Homo sapiens: one gene and its partners. The protein of the gene in region 5 purifies or fractionates together with the protein of the main gene of each other region. This does not show direct contact. Each region holds a gene or a part of one and is shown on either strand. Other genes may lie near its edges. The genes, in order: USP9X, QKI, MAP3K7, CYLD and MALT1.

Region 1 (5,056 bases), on a different chromosome or scaffold from region 5:
CACCCCAAAGGTGGAATAAGATTAAAGAGAGAAGGGAAGAGAGAAAAGGTAAAATCAGATCTAGTAAATTCACCATCACACTTAGACATTTCAAAGACACACAAAACGCAAAATGCTGGTGAGAAAACTATCAAAGAATACAAATCTCTCTCAACTGAGGAAATCTCCAGGCCCACAGGTGACGCACCACAAAACAGACTTAACGCTAAGGCACATCATAATATTTCAAAACGTAAGGATAAAACCAAAACTTCCAGAAACGAAGGTCACATGCAAAGGAATAGAAACCAAGAGGACTTTGGTCTTCTCATCAGCAATGCCACCAGCCAGAAGGAATATATTTTCAAACCTAGGATTCTATACACAAACCATTAATCAAACGTGATAGTTTGCCCACATTCAGATAAAAAATATCTCAAAAAAAAGTATGTGGGAAGAATAAGTGATAGGTGTACAATCAGGAAAATAAAAGGGAAATTATTAAATCCAGGATAAAAGTTGTCAGTGATCTAGAGAACTATATTTCAAACAATCTTGGAAACGTAGATGTTGAATCTGGATTTAAGCAAATACTGGGAGGATGTGGGGGTATGTAACAGTTAAGTTTTCATCTACACAGCAGAAAATCAGTATATATCTGTAAGTAACAAAGAAATAGCTGTATGAGGACACTCCAGACATAATGGTACATATATATACTAAAGTAAAAGCGAGAAGTTGGAAGTGGTTGTTTCTAAGGATAAAAAAGGAACAATACCGCAGATGACACATGACCCATATTATAGTCCAGGTATAGGCAAACATTTTCTGTAAAGGGCCAGGAAAGTTAAGCAGTTTAGGCTTGTGAACCATATGGCCTCTGCCACAACTCCTGGGCGGTGCTATTTTAAGACAAAAGCAGTCATGTAGACTGAATGTAAACAAATGAGCCTGGTTTTGATCATGGACACTAAAATTTAAACTTCATATAATTTTCATGTATCACAAAATATTATTCTTCTAGATTTTTTTTTTGTAGCCACTTAAAAATATAGCTCTTGGGATGCACAAAAACAAGCAGGGGGCTTGATGTGGCTTGTGGGCTGTCATCTGTCAACTCTTGTTATAGTCTATACCAAAAAGCACGGTCCATTTAGAAACAGAATTTGCTAATATACTCCTTTATTGTCCAGCAAGTACTTGATCATCATTTAAAAATTCTTACCTGGCGGCATAAGTTTCATAAGTACTCTTGCTCCATCTCTAAGGGGTGGCATATTTAGGCTGCTACCTAAGTCTGCAACTTGCCAAAGAAAAGAGATGTATCTGGGATGCAGTGACATTATCTAGAATATAAAATACACAAAATAATTACCTCTAAATTATTTACTCCCGTTTTATAAAAGCCCAAGTAAGTTTCTCTGTGTTAATCCCTATACTTTTACTTATGAAATTTCTACTCTTTGAAATAGTCTGACTTTCCCATCTTTTAATCCCTACAAATCCTTAATAGTGCAGATCAAATACATCATCAAGTCACTTCCAGTCATTTTTTTGTGATAGCTCCTCTCCTGTTCTATTAAACCATTTCTCTCATATATACAATTTAGACTCTGGACATAACAAAAGGCTGCCATGCCCACTACCAAATTCTTAATCCAGTTGTTATAGAGAGCCAAATCCTCCTGACACTGGAGTGGCTGCTACTATTGTAACCATTAAAATTTCTGTCGGGAGGGGCGAAAGGAGAGCTTAAAAATATTTCTTTGGCTATATGTTACTGACAATCTGATAAAGATTACAGGTATTTTCCTACATAGTTCTTGTTTTCATTTATTTATATTTTTAGAGATGGGGTCTCACTCTGTTGACCAGGCTAGAGCATAATGGCACAATCGCAGCTCACTGCAGCCTAGAACTCCTGGGCTCAAGCAATCCTCCTGCCTCACAGCCTCCCCAGTAGCTGGAATTACAGGTGTGAGCCACCATGCCCAGCTCATATATAGTTCTAAAAGAACTATCCGTTTTGTGGTATAAATTTTAGAAAGTGATACAGCTGACTCTTGAACAACACAAGTTTGAACTGCACAGGTCCATTTACATGCAGACTTTTTTCCCAATCAAATGTGGACAGAAAATTCAGTATTTCCAGCAAGCAAAACCCAAGTATATGGAAGGCTAACTTTTTGTATATCTGGTTGCACAGGGTCATCTGCAGCATTTTGGGTATATGCAGAGGTCCTGGAACCAATTCTCCACGTATACGAGGGATGACTGTTTTCCTCTAAATTTATACATCCAATAGTGTTATAATTAAGCTCTAATTGGTTAATTTTATGTAAAAGTAACAATACTATACCTATGGGGAAATTATGTTTTAAATTCCAACTGTGTTACAATTACCTTTTAGAGGGATCCATTCTGAAGTTGGTGGTTAACTGTATTTTTTTGTCTCATTAAACTGTAAGCTCCTCAAGAAAAGAAAGAACCACTCTATATACTTTATTCTCAAAAACCCTAGCATGATGCCTTACATACAGTAGTTCAAAACTGTATCTACTCACCACTCCAGGCAAACAGCTTTCCACTTCTGGATTGGGACCATCACTGTAATGATTACCATGGTTTCCAGGAGATCCAGTGGAGGAATCAGAAGAGCTATCAGGGCTTGAAGGCATATTGGAACTTATCTGTGTAAGTTTGGCTGTAATAAGCTGAAAATTATATACTATGTTAATATCAAAAACAAGGAAAAATACTTACACAAAACACAAAACTTAGTGATATACCAACCAAAAAATCCGAAAGACTACATGCTATACTTTAATGCTATAACTCTAACACCTAACACAGTCCCAAACATAACAAATGCTCAATTAGTATTTACTGATTAAACGATAGTCTCTGGTTTGATTTTATTGAAAAATCTGTTAACTATACATACATACCGATTTATCTTTTAAGTTTAATTGTCCAATCAACTTTCTATCATCTGCAGGATCTATCAGCTCACCGCCCACAAAGAGCTCAATTTTTGTATGGGCTACGTTGGCTTTAATACGATTGAGAATACATCGTCGTACTGAACCAATTGTATCATTTGTATGAGACCATACCTCCAAGTCATCAACCTGTCTGCCCTGGTTTGGAAATCGAACTACAAAAGAGAGGTGTTTACCGCGGAATGCTCTGGGGGGAAAAAGAAAGACAGACATCATCATATTCAGCAGACTCTGAAATTTTGTTGCCAAGAAAATAATGCTGGGGATTTAACACTAAGTATTTTCTTATTAAACAAGAGGATGTGAATTAAAGATACTTAATACAGCTTGAGAATCCCTTATATGAAATGTCTGGGACCAGACAAATTTTGGATTTCTTGGATTAGGGATACTCAACCTGTATTACTTTCAGTATCTTGAAAATAAGGCCAGGCATGGTGCCTCATGCCTATAATCCCAGCACTTTGGGAGGCCGAGGCGGGTGGATCACTTGAGGTCAGTAGTTCGAGATCAGCCTGGCCAACATGGTAAAACTCCATCTCTACTAAAAATACAGAAAATAAGCCAGGCTTGGTGGTGGGCGCCTGTAATCCCAGCTACTTGGGAGGCTGAGGCTGGAGAATCGCTTGAACCTGGGAGGCAAAGGTTGCAGTGATCCGAGACTGCACCACTGCACTCCAGCCTGGGCAACAAGAGTGAAATGCAAAAGAAAAAAAAATATTGCTCCTTTTAACTAAAAATATAAATAATATTTAAAAACATAATCATATTCTATTGTTGTTAGTCTTGTATCTATGGTTGCAGAAAATGAGGTGTCTACTAAAATGAAATTAAATCCAAGATATAACGCTTATTTTTATGCTGTAAAAGCCCAACTCACTAAGACTATTTTTAAATGTAAAAGGTTGGCTGGACGCAGTGGCTCATGCCTGTAATCCTACCACTTTGGGAGGCCAAGCAAAGAAGATCCCTTGAGCCCAGGAGTTCAAGACCAGCCTCGACAACATAGGTAGACCTTGTATTAATAAAAAAAAAAATTCAAAAAAAGAAGGTAGAGTTTACCTTTTACATTTAAAAGGTCGTTTTACATTTTGTTAAAAGCATCAACAAAAATGCCACAATGCACTTTATTTTTTTTCTGGAAAAAAGCCTTCATATCAAAATTCACTCCAAAATGCTATTTATATTGGTATAGTACCTTTTTTAAAGTAAAATACAAAATAAAAATCATATTCAAGAAGCAACTGTATATAATTTCATGATTAATAAACAAAACTCTTTAAAAAAAATGATGGCATTGACTACACAAAACATCCCAAAACTATAAACACCATTTGAAAATATTTGTTATATGCCATGCAAGGCAGCTTTTAAGAGCTCTTTACAGGCCAGGCACTGTAGCTCACGCCTATAATCCCAGCACTTTGGGAGGCCAAAGCAGGAGGATTTGCTTGAGCGTAGGAGTTTGAAACCAGCCTGGGCAATGTAGTGAAACCCCACCTCCACAAAAAGTCAAAAAAAATTAGCCAGGTGTGGTAGCCTGTGCCTGTAGCCCCAGCTACCTGGGAGGCTGAGGTGGAAAGGTCGCTTGAGCCCGCAGTGAGCCATGATTACACCTCGGCATTCCAGCCTGGGTGACAGAATAAGACCTTTTCTCAAAATAAACAAATAAACAAAAACACTTCAACTGCAAAATGCCACTGCAACACTTAATGAGTAATAATGTCAAAGACAAAAAGAAAACTAGAAAACAACTTAAGAATGCCTCACCCAAAAAACCAAAACAAAACCAGATGGGAGAGTGGGGGAGGTTATTAAAAAAAATTAGATGAAATGAAAATGTTTTTAATGGGCAAAGACAACAATTTTCAAACGAGAAAAATTTCTGCTCTCCTTTTACCAAATGGCTAGGAAAATATCAAATAATTAAGAATTAGCACCAATAGATTAGTTATTCACAAACCTCGACATAGGGAGAATTGTTCTTTCCTCATGATAATCACTGTCACATTCATTTATATATTCCCTTAAAACAGTTAATACTCGAACCATTCGAACAGCTTCCTGTCTTGCAC
Region 2 (5,056 bases), on a different chromosome or scaffold from region 5:
CTCCATTTACCCTGATGTGATTAATATGCATTATATGCCTGTATCAAAATATCACATGTACTTTATATATACATACACCTACTGTGTGCCCACAAAAACTTAAAAAAAAAAAAAGAAATATCGTGACTGGATATTGCACTTAAGATCTTGGGAGTCCACTGCATGTGAATTTTGCTTCCATTTTTTAAATGATTCTTGAATATAGGGCAAATACTTAGGAAACCAGAAGCTATGAGATTGCGGATAATCACTTGAGTTCAGTATTACAAAATATGATTTTAATGACCCATTTTACAAATGTAAAAGTTAGTGTTCTGTCTCTGTAGAGTTGCTCATTCCCGATCAAGGTTCTGCAGGATACTTTGTGAACTATCTGGAGTTGACATGTACAACTTCAGGATGCCCTGTTTGATCAGTTGTAATTTTTGAGAAAAAAAGAGGTCAGAAAAACTGGTCTGAAGACTGGCTCATAGAAGCTCTAGAGCCTCTAGACTGTAGAAGAAACTTAGTTTTCTCATCTGAACTTATATTTGAAAAAGAGGTGATATATACCTTCAACAGTGTTTAGGCAGGTACGTACTACCAAATCTCATTGTCAAAACCAGGACAGTAACATTGAAATAACCACTTCGATGTGAAAGTAATTCTATAATTAACCCTGTTGTCTCTTCTTTTTTTTTCTTTTTCTTTTTTTTTTTTTTTGAGACAGTCTCGCCCTGTTGCCTAGGCTGGAGTGCAACGGCGCGATGTCGACTCACTGCAACCTCCGCCTTCCAAGTTCAAGCGATTCTCTTTCCTCAGCCTCCTAAGTAGCTGGGATTACAGGCACCTGCCACCACGCCCAGCTAATTTTTGTATTTTTAGTAGAGACAGAGTTTCACCATGTTGGCCAGGCTGGTCTCGAACTCCTAATCTTCATGATCTGCCCACCTCAGCCTCCCAAAGTGTTGGGATTACAGGCGTGAGCCACCACACCCGGCCAGTGAACCCTGTTGTCTCTTAAGACACACAAGATCATGCCCTGTGAATACAGAGTGGAGGGGAGTGGTCAGGACATGAGGGTGAAGCCCATCCTGGACTGAGACCACCTAGAATCAAATTCCAGCTCTGCCAACTAAATCCTGTGCATTTCTGGGAGGCATTAGTGTACCCTGCCAAAATGTGGCTGTGATCTGGTGTAACATACCATCACCTCCAGCAACACCATATGGCAGACTACACCAGGATCTCCTCCTATGCCACTCTTATTTTTATTCTCTTAGGGTGATCTCTCCTGTTTTCATTATCCTGCACCCTGCACATTACACAAGTGTGCACACACAGTGGTAATCACACACATTTCTTCCATCTTTTTTCTCTGTGGTTTTCTCCCTTGTTTGACACTCCATTGCCAAATAATGAATAGCTATTTTGCTATCCAAAAGGAGCAGTTCAGTGCCAACATGTTTTCAAGCACCTGCCCTTCTGCAGGAAACTCGTCTTTCGTCTTTATTTCCTCTTTGTTGGAAGTAAATTTGCCCTCTTATTTGCTGACATTTTCAAACTTGTACCACTTCTTTCTCGCTATGGTAGATGACTGGAGGTAAACCTACTGCTCTTCTTTTTCTTTTTTTATGTAGAGTATAATTTATAATACTTTTGGTATTCCATTTTTATATATAAATTTAAATTTGAAACTTTTGATAAGTTTTAATTTTCAAATGACTAGTTTTTAGCAAATAAGTTGAAGTTTTATTATAATGGATTTGATTCTTCTTTTCCAATAGTAGCTTACTTATTTCGTTTTTAACAAATAATTTCTGTGTCTTTCTAAGATCATACTTACTTTTTGTTCATCTTTGTACAAGTTGATAGGAGTCAAATTCTACAGGCATGCCAGTATCCACTCCCTGTAATCTTCTGCAAAGTAGGTTTTTAAAAAGTTGGCAGTAGCACATCAAAACATTGTCTTTATGTTTCACTCATATTTTTCTTTAATTCTTGTGATTTACTAAAAGCTCACTGAACAGTTCTGTTTACTATATATTATAGTATACCATTCACCATTGTAATGCCAAAAACAGAATTTTGTGTGTCATTACAGCTATAATAGAAAGGAGCACTGAGAAGCCTGTGTCCTGGTCGTCCTTCCCGTTTTATGAATCAGAGAGGAACAAGACTATGTCAGAAAATTGTTGCATTGTGTTACTTTCATTGTAAATATCACAAAGTCATGTAAAGTTACTGGGATTCGATGATACATAAAAGTGGGGGGCAGTTAGTTCTATCTCTACACAGACTTTGATAGATGGACCCTCATCTACTGCTTGCTTTGACTGTGGCTAAAGTTTATGTTGGACTGAGACATTTGGGATTTGGAAATAAAGTTAAAGACTTCTCATACCAGTCACTTATAAGTTCTAGTAAGTAACTTGGGGGTGGCCGTGGGAACATGGGGTTAGGCAGTGGTAACAAAGAAATAAGCCCTATTCTCATGGAGCTTACTTTGGGAGTGGTGATACTCAACAGACTGTAATTTGAAGTAGAAGCAATTAACTTTGTCGATAGGTTCTTGGAGATACAACTTTAAACAAAATGAGTATATTGCAGCCTCTTTTTTCATCAATGTTATAATGAAACCATGTTGAAAGCAGTGGCATTATTTGAGGACCTGCTGTCTGTCGTTTCACTTAAAGTTAGTTTTAAAGAATGTATTGACCACATTAAGTGAGGATCTACTGTAATCTAGGGATGGCCCCTGGAGAAGGAAGGTAGCATTTAGGTTGAAGTTTGTGGGGATGGGGATAGGTAGGATTTGGAAAGAGAGAGGGGCAGAGAGTGCGCAGGGGAGCACTTAGGATGGAGGAAGTGGGAATATGCACAGAGATGAATGGTGGAGAGCAATCTGGTTTGACTTAAGATGTTACTTACATACGTGTGTAAAGTAGTAGGTTAATGGGCTTAACTTGAGAGGATATTTTGGGACCAGATTATAGGCAACTAAAGTTTTTTATATTTTTAGATAGTAAGAAACCATGAAAGTGTTTTGAGACAGAATGTTGAGAAACATGATGAAAATTGTGATTTGGGCAATTAATCTGGCCTTTGTGTAGAGATTGATTGGAGAACAGACACCATTAGCAACATGTTTTAGTAGTTTGGGTGCTATGCCAAAAACAACTGGAACAGTAAATGGAAAGAGTGGGACCAATTCAAGGTAAATGGGGTGGCCAAACATTTTGATGATTAGAGACTATCCTGATTTAGGTTTGAAGCATGGTTATTATTAGTGCCCATTTTTGCTTTTAAAAGTTTTCTGCTTTGGACAATAAATCATATGGTGACCCTAAAGATAGATTGCTGTAGCATTGATAGCACTTGCTAATTAGATTGAAAGGAGACAGGGATGGTGGTGTAAGAGAGCAGAATATACGGTTTTTTAGAAGTTATTATTTCACTGAGTTTTCATATTTTGAAGAATTAAGCATAAAATTTCCTTACCTAAATTCTGTAATCAAATCTTGTATGTTTAAAATTATTTGTGTGCACATGTGCACGCGCGTGTGTGTATGTGTGTGTTTAACGAACACATTTGAGTTTTGGAATATTCAGCAAAATGATAGTTGCTGGCTGGGTGCAGTGGCTCACACTTGTAAACTTAGCACTTTGGGAGGCTGAAGCAGGAGGATCACTTGAAGCCAGGAGTTTGAGACCAGCCTGGGCTACAAAACGAGACCTTGTCTCTACAAAAAATAAAAAAAATTAGCCAGGCATGGTGGCGCGTGCCTCTAGTCGCAGCTACTTCGGAGGCTGAGGTAGGAGGATGGCTCGAACCTAGGAATTCAAGGTGGCTGTGAGCTAGGATCATGCCACAGCACTCCAGCCTGGGTAACAGAGCAAGACCCTGTATCTAAAAACAATAAAATTAATTAAAGTAATTTTAAAATGATAGATGCTGAAGAGAATATGTTATGTTTAGTCTTATCTCACATTTTCATTCATTTCTATTTAAAAGTAAAGCTTTTTAGGGGAACTTTAATAAATCGGTGTAACTGACAAAAAATTTACAAATACAATATGCTGTATATCAACATGCCTTTACTGAGAAAACAGAGAAAGCAGGCTCCATTATGTTAGCACCTTTTGGTTCTTGATCTTTTTTTCCCCTTATTAAAACAGGTGACTGTAGTCACATGATACTTACTTTAAGGCTTGTGTGTAGATATAGCTATTATATTTGTGGACAGTCTCAAATGCTTTCATCTCATGTGTTTTCCATGTATAGGCAGAAGGAGAAGACAGCCTGAAGAAGATGCAGCTGATGGAGCTTGCGATTCTGAATGGCACCTACAGAGATGCCAACATTAAATCACGTAAGAATGAGCTCTGAGGCCCAGGGTTACTGCTGTCTGCGTTGTTTTGTCTACAGACTTTTTTCCTTTTGGCAACACAATAATAGTTCATACAAAGTGAACAGTTGAAATAACTGTTCTGTCACTTGATATGGGGCTGACAGTCCTATTTTTAATGCTTTCATGAATTGAGGACACTCTTGATTTTATTTTATGTCAGCATGTTGAAGTTTTAGGTTGATAAACTTACATTATTTTAACAAAATCACAATCTCTAAATTCAAGTGTTTAAGAAATTTTCTGTTTGGTTAACTACAGATGTAGGGCTTGCAGCTTATCTTGTTAAATTTATGCAAAAGACAACATATTGAAAGCTTATTTTGAAAAAGTGAATTTGAAGTGTATCTGACTGAAATGACCCTCTGTTGAGTTCTGTCCTTTCACTTTGCTTGCATGTTTTCCCTCTAGTATTTTTCCCTGTTGATTTCATATGTGAGTTCACAGAGATCAGTGGGTGATAACTCTTTTTCCGTCCTATTTTTGTTTTTATGCGTATCTATGCATGTTTTTATAAGCCGTAAGAGGATAGCTTTTTTATGTTTAAAATGAAATAATGTGAAATTTATATTTTGAAACAATTTAAGATTCATACATGTCATTTATATGAACATACCATGTTTAAATTACTGATTATTTAAAACACATAGAATTTTTAAGTTCTAGCC
Region 3 (3,932 bases), on a different chromosome or scaffold from region 5:
TCAATGCTGAACAGTCTCCACAATGATACTAATGGTAGTAATATTAAAGGCAGTATAGGAAACTGGTAAAAACAGCTAAGATTACTCAGATGATGGTACTGTTTGATAAATCTATGAATGACCTAAATAATTAGGCAGACATTTGTTTTTAGACTTGTGGAATAATGTAAAAAATGGCCATTAGTCACATGATTATAAACAAGGCATAGAAATGAAATAACTAAGAGTGGCGCTAAAATTAAGAAGGTAAGTAATTTTCCTTCATGAAAAGCTATTTTCCCAAGCAAATGTAAAGTAACTTTACTAATGAAGAGGATGCATTCTAACATCATATGTGGTTAAAAACAACATTACCAGAACTATAAAAGAAACAGGACAGATGCAAGGACATTGAGTCCATAAGTCAATATGACTTAAGATATGAGCATTCAAGTCAGAAGCATCTGGATTTGAATCCCAGCTCTACCACTTACTAATCTTGTGACCTTAAGCAAGTTATTTAACCTCTCTAGGCCTCAGTTTCCTAATCTGTAAAATGAGGCAACAGTACTCACCTTCTAAGGGTGGGTGAGAATATAAACAGGAAAAATATGTGAAGCATTATTATTCTTTGCTTCTTCTCCTTGATGAGGCCCTTGCTTCTTCAGGAGAAAAGGGCTATAACTCTCCAGTTATATTAACCATGTCAGAGATTTTATGTATGTATTTTTTTATTTTTTCCATGATCCAGCCTGATGCTTCTCCCTAAGAGAGAGCCAACTGTCTAGGTTGCGTACTGATGGCCTTTCCCTAATCAGCGGAGCCAGTGAACATCCTCAGCCGCATGTGTAGACCAGGACTACTCTCAATCCTGCTCTGCTGGACTCTGGGGCAGGGACAGGGCAGAGTCTGATAATAGCAAAGCAGTCTCTTAACAAAGAATTGTACATTTTAATGTTAGAGATAAATGATATTCTTTAGGGAAGGGGACAGGAGTAGTCTTCCAAGTAGAAAACACAAAAAGTACTTTTAAGAAAAATTTCTTTTTACGAACCATTATGAACAGCCCACATGATTCGGAAAGCTGGGCCACCAATCTCATCAAAGGGTTTCCGACGCGTTATCACTTCCCAAAGAATAATACCCCAGCTGAAGACGTCACATTTTTCACTGTAATTACTACCTAGAAAAAAAAAAGGTAGTATATAACCTAAAGACTATTTTTCCACATGACTTACAGAAACAATGGCTTAAATTTTGAGAATGGGTATCAGGGATAAAAATGAGGCTGTCACATGTAGAACTAAGAAACTACTCTTTCTGAAGTACTTTGTCTTTTCAACAAGTACATTTTTAAATGAATTAAGTATCAACAATACACTAAAAAACTACTTCAGAAACTCAGTTATTTTCTATCTTTTTTCATCAAGAGGCAGTTTTTTCATCAAGAGGCACAGGACTTGACTTTTATGTATTTAGACTGATACTTTCTCTGGGGCAGAGTATGAAACATCTGTACATTCCTTTATGTTGTTTATTATTATTTTATTCTGAGACAGGATCTCACACTCTCATCCAGGCTGGAGCTCAGTGTAGCCTCAAACTCTTGGGCTCAAGTGATCCTCCTGAGTAGCTGGGGCTACAGGCATGCGCTGGCACAACTGGTTAATTTTTTAAATTTTTTGTAGAGATGGGGTCTTGCCATGTTGCCCAGGCTGGTCTCAAACTCCTGGGCTCAACTGATCCTCCTGCTCTGGCCTCCCGAGGCGCTGGGATCACAGGCATGAGCCATTGTGCCTGGCCTCCTTTCTGTTACATTTTAATCTTAAATTTTCTTCCCACTCTGACAGACAGCACTACTCTGCTATCAAAGCAGAAGAACTTTCTAATTTAGTGTTACAGTTTTTTCCTCAATATATGGTGAAGGGAAATTCTTAATTTATAAACTTAAACATTACGTTGTAAGTAACGAAAATTATGGATAACCTGAGTTACACAGCAAAATTTACAAACTAAGTAGGTGGTTGAATCAGCCAGCACAATAAGCACCCGTCATAATCTCCCAAAAACAAACAAACACTCAACTCACTGTAAGAATGAACAATTATTATAGCTATAGCTTTACATGCTAAGCAGTACACTGTAATATAGCACTACAACCATGCTACAGTCTAATTTGGGCTACAGGTTGACTGACATCTTTCAGAAATGAAGAAACTTACACAGCCTAACAGTCTGCATTTTGTTGCTCTAGACAATTAAGGGTTGTCTAGAGCAATAAAATTAATCTTTTGTATAAACAAATCTTTTTGCTCTCCACATACAGTAACATTGGGTCATTTTAACTCACATAAAGGTATATTAAATAAGTAAATAATTTTAAAACAATGTCAAATGTATACATTCTGTATATGAAACAGGAGGCATTATTTAATCTTGTGTAATATAACACCTGATTATTCATTTATTACTAAATTGAATTTTAGGGCAAAAGAGCTCCACTCAGGTGACTAGTTGCATTGCAATTTCTCTTCCTCTGGGGTGGCTAAAAACAAACAGAAAACCCTTTAAAGTCATCAAAACTGAAAGAAATAAGCTATAACCAGAGTCTGATTAACTGAATGTATCTGAATTTTATGGGCATTTACACTTCCTAACATACAAATCACATACCTTCAGTTCAACTTCTTTCATTTAAAAGATAATTTGATGTTTTTATACAGAAACCTAGCATATAATTTACAGACAACTCTTTTAAAACTTCAGTGACATATGGAGGTATAAAAGAAGGTAAACATATAAGCTTGACATTTATTTGTAATTCTTAGTATCTTATTTCTGTCCAATTACTTGCATTCTTTTTTTTTTTTGAGATGGAGTCTTGCTCTGTCACCCAGGCTGGAGTGCAGTGGCACGATCTCGGCTCACTGCATGCTCCGCCTCCCGGGTTCACACCATTCTCCTGCCTCAGCCTCCCGAGTAGCTGGGACTACGGGCGCCCGCCACCACGCCCGGCGAATTTTTTGTAGTTTTAGTAGAGATGGGGTTTCACCGTGTTATACAGGATGGTCTCGATCTCCTGACCTCATGATCCGCCCACCTCAGCCTCCCAAAGTGCTGAGATTACAGGCCTGAGCCACCGCGCCCAGCTATTTGCATTCTTTTTAAGGCATCCTCATTTAAACTTTAGGGCTCTCAATTTTTAATTGCTAGGAAACCAATACAAAAGCACAGTTAATTCTCATTATTCCTGGTATTTATGTTCTATAAAGTTTCTGAGAACACTGAATTAGTGAACACTGAATCACTGCTCCTAAGGAAAATACAGGGGTAGGTTCCTGTGTGCCTCTGGTCACCATGTTTTTGTCAACTGATCAATATATAGCCTTGTTTCATGCGTATTTCTGCTTAAAGACACCTTATTCATATATACTGTTGATTTATTACCATTGAACTCATAGTCAACATTTCTGTAACTCATGCCTGAATGAAGATAATTTAACATATGTATATTGTCTGTTAAGATACATCATAGCCTTCTTGTACTTAGGCAGTACTATGCTTGAGGGCCATTTTAAGTAGCAAAATTACCAACAAAAATCACAAAAATGAAAAAGGGCTCTGAACAGCACAAAAAAGGACACCTGCTTACAGCATGAGAGCTGAAACAAGACGGAAAAACGTTGTCTTGTTCAACCTCAGCTGGAAGCATGCGTTAGATGACTCAAAATTTGCACTGCTCAGCGCATGCACACTGTCTGCGAGTACATGAAAGCACTGTCTGCAAATAACCATGAAAGCACCATGAGTATTAATTTTGGGGTTACAAATAAATGTTAGCAAATAGGCAATTTTGCAATTAAGAAATTGGTGAACAATGAGGATCAACTGTACATATGCTTAGAAGCATAGAAGATTTAAATCTTACTATAAAATTTAGGATATAACACTAT
Region 4 (5,056 bases), on a different chromosome or scaffold from region 5:
GTCTGTTGAATAATGGCAGTAGAAATGAGAATTGTCTATTTTTCCAATGCTTCTAGAACAATTTAAAGGTTACCTTATTTTTAGCAAAGGTTCTACCCTTAAAATATGATGAAACAGAATATTCAAGAATTCCTCAGGATCTAGGAGAAAATTTAAAAATCAAATAAGTCACAGGCAAAATTTTTAAATCATTTTATTTTTCATTTCTAACAGTCAAATTTTAATACTGAATTCAGTTTCATTCATCCAATATTATTTCAATTAAAAGCACAGTTTTCAAGTTTTCCTGACAAAGGAAAAACATAAAAGACATTTAATAAGTTATAATCAAGTATTATGTTTCAATTTTGTTGTGAGTTTATTACATTTGAAAGGGTGTAACACATTGCACATAATGAAATAGCTGTTATTTCCTTTGGAGGGGTTAAGGTAAATGGAGTACAATCTGAAGTATGCTCTGTTTTTTCCTGCAAGCCTCTGAACATTACAGCTGTTTACAGTATGCTGCTGACAAATTCAAAGTCAGGTGGTGAATCTTTGAGTAAGCCCATTAGCTAGGAAGAGATTATAACACTGTTCCCTGACTATAAACTTAATCCTAGTTAGCAGCTTTCTAACTCCCTTTTACAACAGGGAAGACTCAGTGGGAAAATGTAGAAAACCCAATGCAACTCTGCACCACAAGAGAGAAACAACTGAGAATATCATTGCTAGGTGGAAAGGAAAGGACTTTTTATTTAAGCATTTAATATACTAGAACCAGCCAGCTTCTTAAAGGAGTTCATTATTCCACATCATCAATCACTTTTAGAAGAGAGGAAGAATTTACAAAAAGAGGAGCTAACCATATATCACATAAAAAGAAATTTCTAATTTAAAAGAAAACCCCCCAACTACACAGACACACATTTCAGCTAATACTTTGACATGTGAATATGCTCTTCAGTTATTTTTAACGCATATAAGTTAAGATGGTCACCTTTTTCTTCAGAGGTAAATCCTGATGCAGCCTCCACCTTTTCAAGTATTTTCCTCAGTTTCATAATTTTTGTGGCACACACATATCCATATCTAAGTTAGTAAAAAACTATTAATTGATATTGGCATGTATTAAATTATATAACACATCTTAATCACATATTTCTTTTTTTCTTTTTTTTTTTTGAGATAGAGTCTCACTCTATCACTCAGGCTGGAGTGTGCAGTGGCCCGATCTCAGCTCACTGCAACCTCCGCCTTCCAGGCTCAAGAGATTCTCATGCCTCAGCCACCAAAGTAGCTGGAATTACAGGCGTGCACCACCACATCCAGCTAATTTTTGTATTTTTAGTAGAAACAGGGTTTCACCATGTTGGCCAGGCTGCTCTTGAACTCCTGGCCTCAAGTGATCCGCCCACCTCGGCCTCCCAAAGTGCTGGGATTACAGGTGTGCGCCACCACACCTGGCCAACACATTTCTTATACAACTCCAGTATGTCATAAATCAATAGGTTAGACAATTATTTTTGAAGAAAACAATGATAAGCTTCTTCTTGAAGTTTGCAAAATTAAAGATCTAGAACCAGAATTATCCTAGACACTATTATATGCTCTACAAGTAACTGTCATACACTAAGATAAAAAATTTTTAGGTTTGCTGTGACTGATTTTTTAAATAATATTTGCTTGGGAAATTAAAGCATTTACTTTATAAAGCAGAATATACAATTTTGAGAGAGAATATCCTTTTAATACTGAAGTGTGAAACAGCCACCAAGGGAAATGGGAAAGGGAATTTATAAGAAACTGAAAATCTAAAATCTGCAATCAAACCAATTGGCATAATGATGACATTTTCTCTCTTCTTTGTCTGAATGCAAGACACATTCAATCAGTTTAATATCACTTTAAATTTGTAATTCTAAAAATGGCTTCAGAGGAGAACTTGGCGGCTACCATAAGTTTACTAAGGACAAGTCAGAACTAGCTAATTTTATATCCACTTTTTATACTATTCATTCACTCATTAGTTTCCTGCAACCAATACAGACTGAGAATCTACCACTTACATAGTAACGTAACCTGTCAGCCACTGGGAATACAAAATGAGTAAGGTTAAAAAGACAGGGTCTCTGAAGAAAAGCAGAGATTTCAGCACCAAATAAAACCAGTCAGCTATATACAGATATGAATGCTACAGACACAGGGAATCCTGATCACAACAGGGCATCTGACCAGTTTCTTACCGTGGACAGGGTAAGAAAGTGTGATTAACTATGATTCTTAACTGGCTGAACAATAGGATCCAAAGAATGTTTATTCTTCCTCTCTTCTAGGAAGGAGGTGTTAACATGCCTTAGAGTTTCGGGTTTGACCTGTCTTGTTCCAGTATCAATTACTTGGGGGAAAAAAATCGTATGTTTAAAAATTTGCATAAGACAAAATAGTTGATGTGAAAATCAAGATTCACAATTATCTTAAAGAGTAAGATCATTAGAGAAATCATTACAGAATTTAAAGAAAGCAAAAGATATAAGTGAGGAAATTTATTCTCTTATAATTTACTTTCCTAGTCATGTGATATAGCAGATAATTTGGAATCCTCATTGTATTTGAGTATTCTGCTTTTTTGGTTCAAATTTGATATCAAACTATTTTTTACTTTAATTGATAAATAAGAACAGTATATAAAAGGATTCAAATTTATCTTAATATGGACTTTAAATAAATCACTTTCTCTCTATATTCCTGAATGAACAAATTTGTTTTATGATCTATGGTCCTAATTCTTCATAGTTTAAATTTTATAATGTGACATTATCACATATCACTACTACCACTTATTCAAAGTCTTTACTAGATATCTCCTGTCACTTGTGCTTGTACCATTACAAATTGCTTCCTGTGGCCATAAAAAGACATATTTATAATTCCTAAAGTAGGAAATGGAAAAAGAATCACCTTTTTAAGGCAGGTGGAAAGAGGCCAAATATATTCCTTTAACCAAAAAATATGGTACTAAAATACATCTCATCTGTTGCTAGTCCAAAGTATTAAACACTAGCTATTCTATAAAGAATTTCCCTTTCTCCTTTTCTTTCAGATTTAAGAAGCTAGACTACACCAATTTAACTAATAAGCATGATTACTTGTAGCAGAAGTGTTGGAATAAACTATTTCAAAAGATAAGAATCCTAAGTATTATGTATTAGCTTTCCTAAACATACTGCAATTGCTAAATTATAGTTTACTCTAGCAAAATAGGTTAAATCATTTCATGGAATATGCTATGTTCTACACCTTGGCCACATTTAAGAAATTAAATAAGCAAAAAAGTACAAGGACCAAAGGTTTAAAAACGTAATATTTTACCATAAGAACTAATTTTCACCCATCTCTTATTACATGAAGACAAGGTATAAATTAATTACTATACCAGAAAACAGCAAATAGAACACCATGTAAAGGCAAAATAGCAATTTGTTTTCTACTTACATTCTCAGAGGATTAACAATTTCTGTCCTCAGTAGCTCTTGGGTTTCACTATAATATTCTACATCGTTCTTTTCTTTGGGTCTAAGTAACACAGTGTCCAGAACAGAACTAAAAGCAAATAAGCTGCAAAAGAAAAAGGATAATTTTCTTCATGCTGTAAACATATTTTTCAAGAAACAGATTTTTAACAGAATTAGAAGAGGAAAATAAGTAAAGTCTGGAGAACAAATAACATAACAATTTGTGTTTTTCATTAACACAGGTACCAGGACCCCTGTGAAGATACCCATGGTTCAATCATCAGGACCTACAGATCCTTCCATGTTAAGGACAACACCAATAATACTGAGAAAGCAAACGGCAGATTGGCAGTGTTAAAGGATAACAACGTGCCAACAGAATATTAAGAAAGAAAACTTCTTTGCAAAAGTTGATAGAGAGACTACAAATATCAGTCAAATTACAAACAGACAACAGAGGACAGCATTTGGAAACGACTTCCCGAGGCAAGCACTATTCAGTGCCCCACTTCCCTCTCCCCATGCCCCTTTGCAAAGATCTATTACATTAATAAATTTCTTTAAATGCTAAAATCACTTATGAGTGACTAACAGGCCAGGTGCGGTGGCTCATGCCTGCAATCCCAGAACTTTGGGAGGCCGAGACGGGTGAATCACCTGAGGTCAGGAGTTTGAGACCAGCCTGACCAATATGGTGAAACCCCGTCTCTACTAAAAATACAAAAATTAGCCAGGCATGATGGAGTGCACCTGAAGTCCCAGCTACTTGGGAGGCTGAGATAGGAGAATCGCTTGAACCCGGGAGGTGGAGGTTCCAGTGAGCCGAGATCACGTCACTGCATTCCAGCCTGGGCGACACAGCGAGACTCCTTCTCAAAAAAATAAACGAGTGACAGCAGTAACTTGCTGTTATCAAAGAAAAAGAAAATTTAGCTAATATAGATTTTTATCAGGAAATCTAAAGAATATTATATCAATGCTACAAGGTTTGTTTTTGTCAAAGTATTCTGCAAATAAAATGGCCGCCACTTTATTCTTCTTCCTACTTTAAAAATGTTAACATCCCATATTAACTTCCTAATTCTTATCATATGGCTACAGAACTGGCAGGCTACTCTCAATTTAGCCCAGTCTACAATCCTCAGAGCCTAAAGATTCTTGGTTCAATTTCCAGAGCTTAAAGATCCTTGCAATGTTAAGGCTGGGCGTGGTGGCTCATGCCCGTAATCCCAAGCACTTTGGGAGGCCAAGGCGGGTAGATCATTTGAGGTGAGACGTTCGAGACCAGCCTGGCCAACGTGGTGAAACCCCCGTCTCTACTGAAAATACAAAAAAGAAAGTTAGCCAGAAGTGGTGGTTCACACCTGTAATCCCAGCTACTCAGGAGGCTGAGTCAAGAGAATCGCTTGAACCTGGGAGGCAGAGGTTGCAATGAGCCCAGATTGTGCCGCTGCATTCCAGCCTGGGGGACAGAGTGAGACTCTGTCTCAAAAAAAAAAAAAAAAAAAAAAAAAATCTTAAGTTGTTCCACTTTGGAAAAAATTGCATATATGAGGGCAGCA
Region 5 (5,056 bases):
CTGCCTGCCTCGGCCTCCCAAAGTGCTGGGATTATAGGTGTGAGCCGTCATGCCTGGCCTGTTGCCAATAATTTTAAATGCAAAATAACATTGTCTATATTTATAATTGGGTATTTCTTACATATGCTCACATCAACCTGAAGAAAATTAAAGTCAAGGTTTTTCTACAAAAAGTTATGCAGTCTGTATGTTCAGAGTGCATTTAGAATTGACATCTATCTCTCTCTTATTTTTCCTCTTTTCAGGGTTATTATATTATGCAGGACATGGTTATGAAAATTTTGGGAACAGCTTCATGGTCCCCGTTGATGCTCCAAATCCATATAGGTCTGAAAATTGTCTGTGTGTACAAAATATACTGAAATTGATGCAAGAAAAAGAAACTGGACTTAATGTGTTCTTATTGGATATGTGTAGGAAAAGGTAAGTTTTCTAATCTTTATTAAAGAATTGTTGGAGTTAAATATCGACCATGACAAACTAGAGAAACCTGTGAAATGCTAAAAGCCATTTGCGTTTGTGAATTTTAGTTTATACATTGAAACTGGAAGAACAAAACTAGAGGAAAATACATTTACTCCATGTATATCTAATTATTTTAACTCTTCATATTTGCTATAGAACACAAATGAAGAACTAAAGGGCATGGGCATTTACTCACACTACAGGGGATTCAACTCTCCAGAATGCCTTTAGATGACTTTAATAATCACTATAGTTATTCCCTCAGGAATTAACAAAACCAACACCCATGGAGTTGGGATCTCTGCTCACTAGTCAGTCCTGGTCTTCCAGACATGGAATGAGTAGCCGAAGCAGATGTTTGGAGGTTTGGATCCCATTTGTCTGCCATTGCCTTTCTAAGGAGTAGAACCAATGACTGTTCCTCTAGATTTACTATTTTTTTGCTTGCTCAGCATTTACCAATCAAAATCCAATGCCAGAGTTCAAATGCAACTCTAGTTTTAAAGCTAACAAGGAGTTAGTGGGTTATTTTGGGTAGATATGTAGCTACCTAGATGAAAAATTTTGAATCTATAATTTTAAATTATGTATTCTAAAAAACTGTTGTATTTTCTCATTATTTATACCCTTTTAAGAATGCTCTTTAACTTTTCATATTTCTATCTGCCCTCCTCCGCCTCCCTTAAATAGAAATGACTACGATGATACCATTCCAATCTTGGATGCACTAAAAGTCACCGCCAATATTGTGTTTGGATATGCCACGTAAGAACATTTGATGTTTACGTTGAAGTTTCCTTTATTGTTTGATGTCTTTTTGTTTTTGCTTTTTAGGAGCAGGGGTCTTAACTCTGTCACCCAGGCTGGAGTGCAGAGGCGCCATCATAGCTCACTGCTCCTGGGCTCAAGCGATCCTCCTGCCTCAGCCTTCTGAGTCGCTGGGATTACAGGCATGTGCCACTGTGCCTGGCCCCTGAGGGTTTTTTGATTATAGATTAGAGGCCTAGAAAATACCTATAGACATGTAGGCATAAATTTACCTCCTTGATATTCTGCGTAGAAAATTTTAAATGATCGACTTTAGCATTCCATATCATGGTATCTTAATTATTAAGCCCAAATTGGGCATGTAATTCCTGCTTAAAGATTAACTCTTTAATTATCAATGTCATGTGAGAGGCAGAAGAGAAAATGAAGCTTATTGGTGTATACAGAAGTCCCATGTGGCAAGTGTTTGCTTTTCTAACATTTTCTTTTTAAAAAATTATTTTTATTGGATATTGACAAGTTATAATTGTATGTATTTATGGGATACAAAGATATGCTATGATGTACGTATTCAATGTGGAATGATTGAATCAAGATAATTCACATATCACCTCAAATACTTATCTTTTTTCCTAACTGAAACATTGTACCCTGTGACTAACAGTCCCCACGCTGTCCCCACCCCCCCCCAGCCTCTGGTAACCACCATTCTGCTGGGTGCTTCTCTGAGTTCATTTTTATTAGCATCCACATATAAGTGAGAACATACAGTATTTGCCTTTCTGTGCCTGGCTTAACTTCTTTTTCTATTTTTAAGGTGTCAAGGAGCAGAAGCTTTTGAAATCCAGCATTCTGGATTGGCAAATGGAATCTTTATGAAATTTTTAAAAGACAGATTATTAGAAGATAAGAAAATCACTGTGTTACTGGATGAAGTTGCAGAAGGTAAAATAAAAAATAAAGAGAAAAGTACTCAGAAAAAGGAGAGCAGGGGAGACACACCTATTCAGGGTTCCCTCTCTGGTGATTGTTTTATTCTTATTATGTGGGTTTGGAATTAGTACCTACTTTATAAAACAATTTTTATATTAATATAACGTTCAGCAACACTTCTGCTATTTAATGTCATCTTTCCTTCCCTTTTGACCTAGCTCTCCACCATCTGTGCAGCATTACTCAGACTACAAGGCTAAGCCTCGGCACAGTCATTAATAAAGTTGAATTCTCAGAGCTCTACTTTGCTTCTATGCCCAGTGCCTTGGTACTGGCAAATCTCCCTATTTGAGGGTGGGTGGGTGGCATGGAGGGGTGGTGGGGAATTGTCCAGTGAGCAGTCTCTCCCAGGATGGGAGAGAGAAAACTTTACAGAAATTTTTAGACACTGCTGGGAAAAGCTGAGTTCATTTTTTTCCCTGATGAACTTAGTAGTTTTTAAATCCTGATTTAAGGATGTGATCCTAGGGGGTCTAATGCCACATCTTCCATTTCTATCTGTTCTCCCTGCCTGCTGGTATAATGCTGTGCATATGTCAGATGCTGAACAAGTACCTATTATTTCAGTAGATTGCACTGTGTTTTTTGAAAAAACATTTTATAAGCCATAGCAAAAAGAAGGTAACTTGGCCAGGTATGGTGGCTCAAGCCTGTAATCCCAGCACTTTGGGAAGCTGAGGCAGGAGGATCACTTAAGGCCAAGAGTTCAAGACCAGCCTAGGCAACATAGCGAGACCCTGTCTTCAAAATAAAAAATAAAAATAAAAAAGAAGAAATTATTTTACAAACTAGCACCACTAGAAAATGGAGTTTCATGGATGTTCCAGTGATGGCAGTTTGGGTATAAGGTGTTTGACCAACTGTCAGCCATATTTATTTTCATGTTTTTATCTGTGTAGCTATTTTAGATCACTTGACTTAGCCACTTTTCCATTTAACATAACCAGCCAGGGCTTTGGACTTCCTGCCACCCTCCCGCTTCATCCAGAGAAGTTCCACTTTTATTTGTTTTCTACATTAGGCTTCTTCTGAAGCTTACATTTGAAGGAAAGGCTCTGCTGCTTTAAAAAAAAAAAAAGAAAGAAAGAAAACCTTTGGATTATGTCAGTTATATTCAAACTGAGATCCAGTAAGGTGCTCCAGAAACTCTACAGTGTTTTATTTCAATTTCGTTTTTAAGTCCATTTTAACTATTTTAAAACTTAATAAAAAGCACCATGCTCACTCACATATGATATTTACCAAATTGTCATAGCAATGAATGGCATCCCGATATGTGCTGTGAGGATATTTGAACTTCTTATAAACATCTTAGACAGTTTTGCTTTTCGCTGATCTTTTTCAGTCCTACCATGTCTGCTTAACCAGAATTGCCCAGGCAGGAAGACCCTGTAGTGTACATGGAGCACACTCAGCTCAGTGCCGTGCACATTGTGCCCTTCGTGGGTAACGGCCCACTCATTGTACAAAATAAGTAAAGGCCTAATAGTATCATGATAAATAATACAGTTAAATCTAGCCCTTATTTTGAGTTTTGGATGCTTTGTGTCTGACCCCTGTCTTAGTAGTAAAGAGCAAAAGTAGTTGTATGAAATTTTTCACAAGTCATCCAATTTTGAAACAAAACTTTGCTGTTTCTCCCTTTGGATCTTCCAGATTACTTAATTGAAACTCATTCCATGGCTGGGCATGGTGGCTCACACCTGTAATCCCAGCACTTTGGGAGGCTGAGGTAGGAGGATTGCTTGAGCCCAGGAATTCAAGACCAGTCTGGGCAACACAGCAAGACCCCATCTCAATTTAAAAAAAAAATTATTTGGGGCCAGGTACAGTGGCTCATGCCTGTAATCCCAGCATTTGGGGAGGCTGAGGCAGGAGAATCACTTGAACACAGAAGTTTGAGACCAACCTAGGCAACATTGTCAGACCCCCCATCTCTATAAAAATTTAAAAAATTAGCCAGGCATTATGGTGTGCACCTGCAGTGCCAGCTACTCGCGAGACTTAGGTGGGAGGATTGCTCGAGCCTGGCAGTTTGAGACTGTAGTAAGTATGACCACACCACTGCTCTCCAGCATGTGTGACAGAGCAAGCCCCATCTCAAAAAAAAAAAAAAAGAAAATTCCAGAGGGAGAAAAGTATTCACAGATTATAAGCCAAGCAGTTGAAGGGGAAAATAAACATGTTACCAATTTCTTTTTTTAATTTTTTGGTTTCTTTGTGTGAGACTACAGAGTCTCTGTCGCGCAGGCTAGAGTGCAGTGGCATGATCTTGGCTTACTGCAACGTCCACCTCCCAGGTTCAAGTGATCCTCTTGCCGCAGCCTCCCAAGTAGCTGGGACTAAAGGCACACACCACCACGTCCGGCTAATTTTTGTATTTTTGGTAGAGATAGGGTTTCGCCATGTTGGCCAGGCCTGTCTCGAACTCCTGGCCTCAAGTGATCCACCGGCCTCAGCCTCCCAAAGTTCTGGGATTACAGACGTGAGCCACCACGCCCGGCCCACCTTACCAATTTCAACTGTGTGCAAGGAAAACAAAATATGAGGTAAATTGGTTGTTATAATGCTACAGCCATCAATCTGTAACGTGACTTTTATTTTTGTACTATTCAGGACAGCATTATTATTAGAAGTGTTGAACATACTACTGAAGGTTTTCATTGTGAGTAGATGTTCGATATGAATATAGGACCTTGAAGTAACCTACATCTAATTATAGGACCCCTCTTCTCCCTTCCCCCACTCCATGATAACTACCATTCTAAACTTATTCCTTTTTCGTTTTACATAGTTTTATTGAGTTTATATATACCCAAAAAAGTATGCG

What was found.
Region 1: the proteins of MALT1 (region 5) and USP9X purify together in Homo sapiens (affinity purification with western blotting, with the first as the bait; one study listed by BioGRID). This does not show direct contact.
Region 2: the proteins of MALT1 (region 5) and QKI purify together in Homo sapiens (co-immunoprecipitation; one study listed by IntAct). This does not show direct contact.
Region 3: the proteins of MALT1 (region 5) and MAP3K7 purify together in Homo sapiens (affinity purification with western blotting; 2 studies listed by BioGRID and IntAct, with this or other methods). This does not show direct contact.
Region 4: the proteins of MALT1 (region 5) and CYLD purify together in Homo sapiens (affinity purification with western blotting, with the first as the bait; one study listed by BioGRID). This does not show direct contact.

Annotation. Positions count from the first base shown.
Region 1 is NC_000023.11:41,168,107-41,173,162, reverse strand, and holds part of USP9X (ubiquitin carboxyl-terminal hydrolase 9X), read right to left. Parts: coding exon 4,945-5,056; intron 3,169-4,944; coding exon 2,928-3,168; intron 2,694-2,927; coding exon 2,544-2,693; intron 1,326-2,543; coding exon 1,205-1,325; intron 1-1,204.
Region 2 is NC_000006.12:163,557,718-163,562,773, forward strand, and holds part of QKI (KH domain-containing RNA-binding protein QKI), read left to right. Parts: intron 1-4,264; coding exon 4,265-4,352; intron 4,353-5,056. UniProt on the Homo sapiens protein: RNA reader protein, which recognizes and binds specific RNAs, thereby regulating RNA metabolic processes, such as pre-mRNA splicing, circular RNA (circRNA) formation, mRNA export, mRNA stability and/or translation.
Region 3 is NC_000006.12:90,552,425-90,556,356, forward strand, and holds part of MAP3K7 (mitogen-activated protein kinase kinase kinase 7), read right to left. Parts: intron 1,163-3,932; coding exon 1,034-1,162; intron 1-1,033. UniProt on the Homo sapiens protein: Serine/threonine kinase which acts as an essential component of the MAP kinase signal transduction pathway. Plays an important role in the cascades of cellular responses evoked by changes in the environment.
Region 4 is NC_000016.10:50,782,870-50,787,925, reverse strand, and holds part of CYLD (ubiquitin carboxyl-terminal hydrolase CYLD), read right to left. Parts: intron 4,068-5,056; exon of another isoform or gene 3,737-4,067; intron 3,598-3,736; coding exon 3,475-3,597; intron 1,088-3,474; coding exon of another isoform or gene 1,072-1,087; coding exon 980-1,071; intron 141-979; coding exon 74-140; intron 1-73. UniProt on the Homo sapiens protein: Deubiquitinase that specifically cleaves 'Lys-63'- and linear 'Met-1'-linked polyubiquitin chains and is involved in NF-kappa-B activation and TNF-alpha-induced necroptosis.
Region 5 is NC_000018.10:58,733,152-58,738,207, forward strand, and holds part of MALT1 (mucosa-associated lymphoid tissue lymphoma translocation protein 1), read left to right. Parts: intron 1-245; coding exon 246-423; intron 424-730; exon of another isoform or gene 731-829; intron 830-1,155; coding exon 1,156-1,230; exon of another isoform or gene 1,231-1,236; intron 1,237-2,050; coding exon 2,051-2,178; intron 2,179-5,056. UniProt on the Homo sapiens protein: Protease that enhances BCL10-induced activation: acts via formation of CBM complexes that channel adaptive and innate immune signaling downstream of CARD domain-containing proteins (CARD9, CARD11 and CARD14) to activate NF-kappa-B and MAP kinase p38 pathways which stimulate expression of genes encoding pro-inflammatory cytokines and chemokines.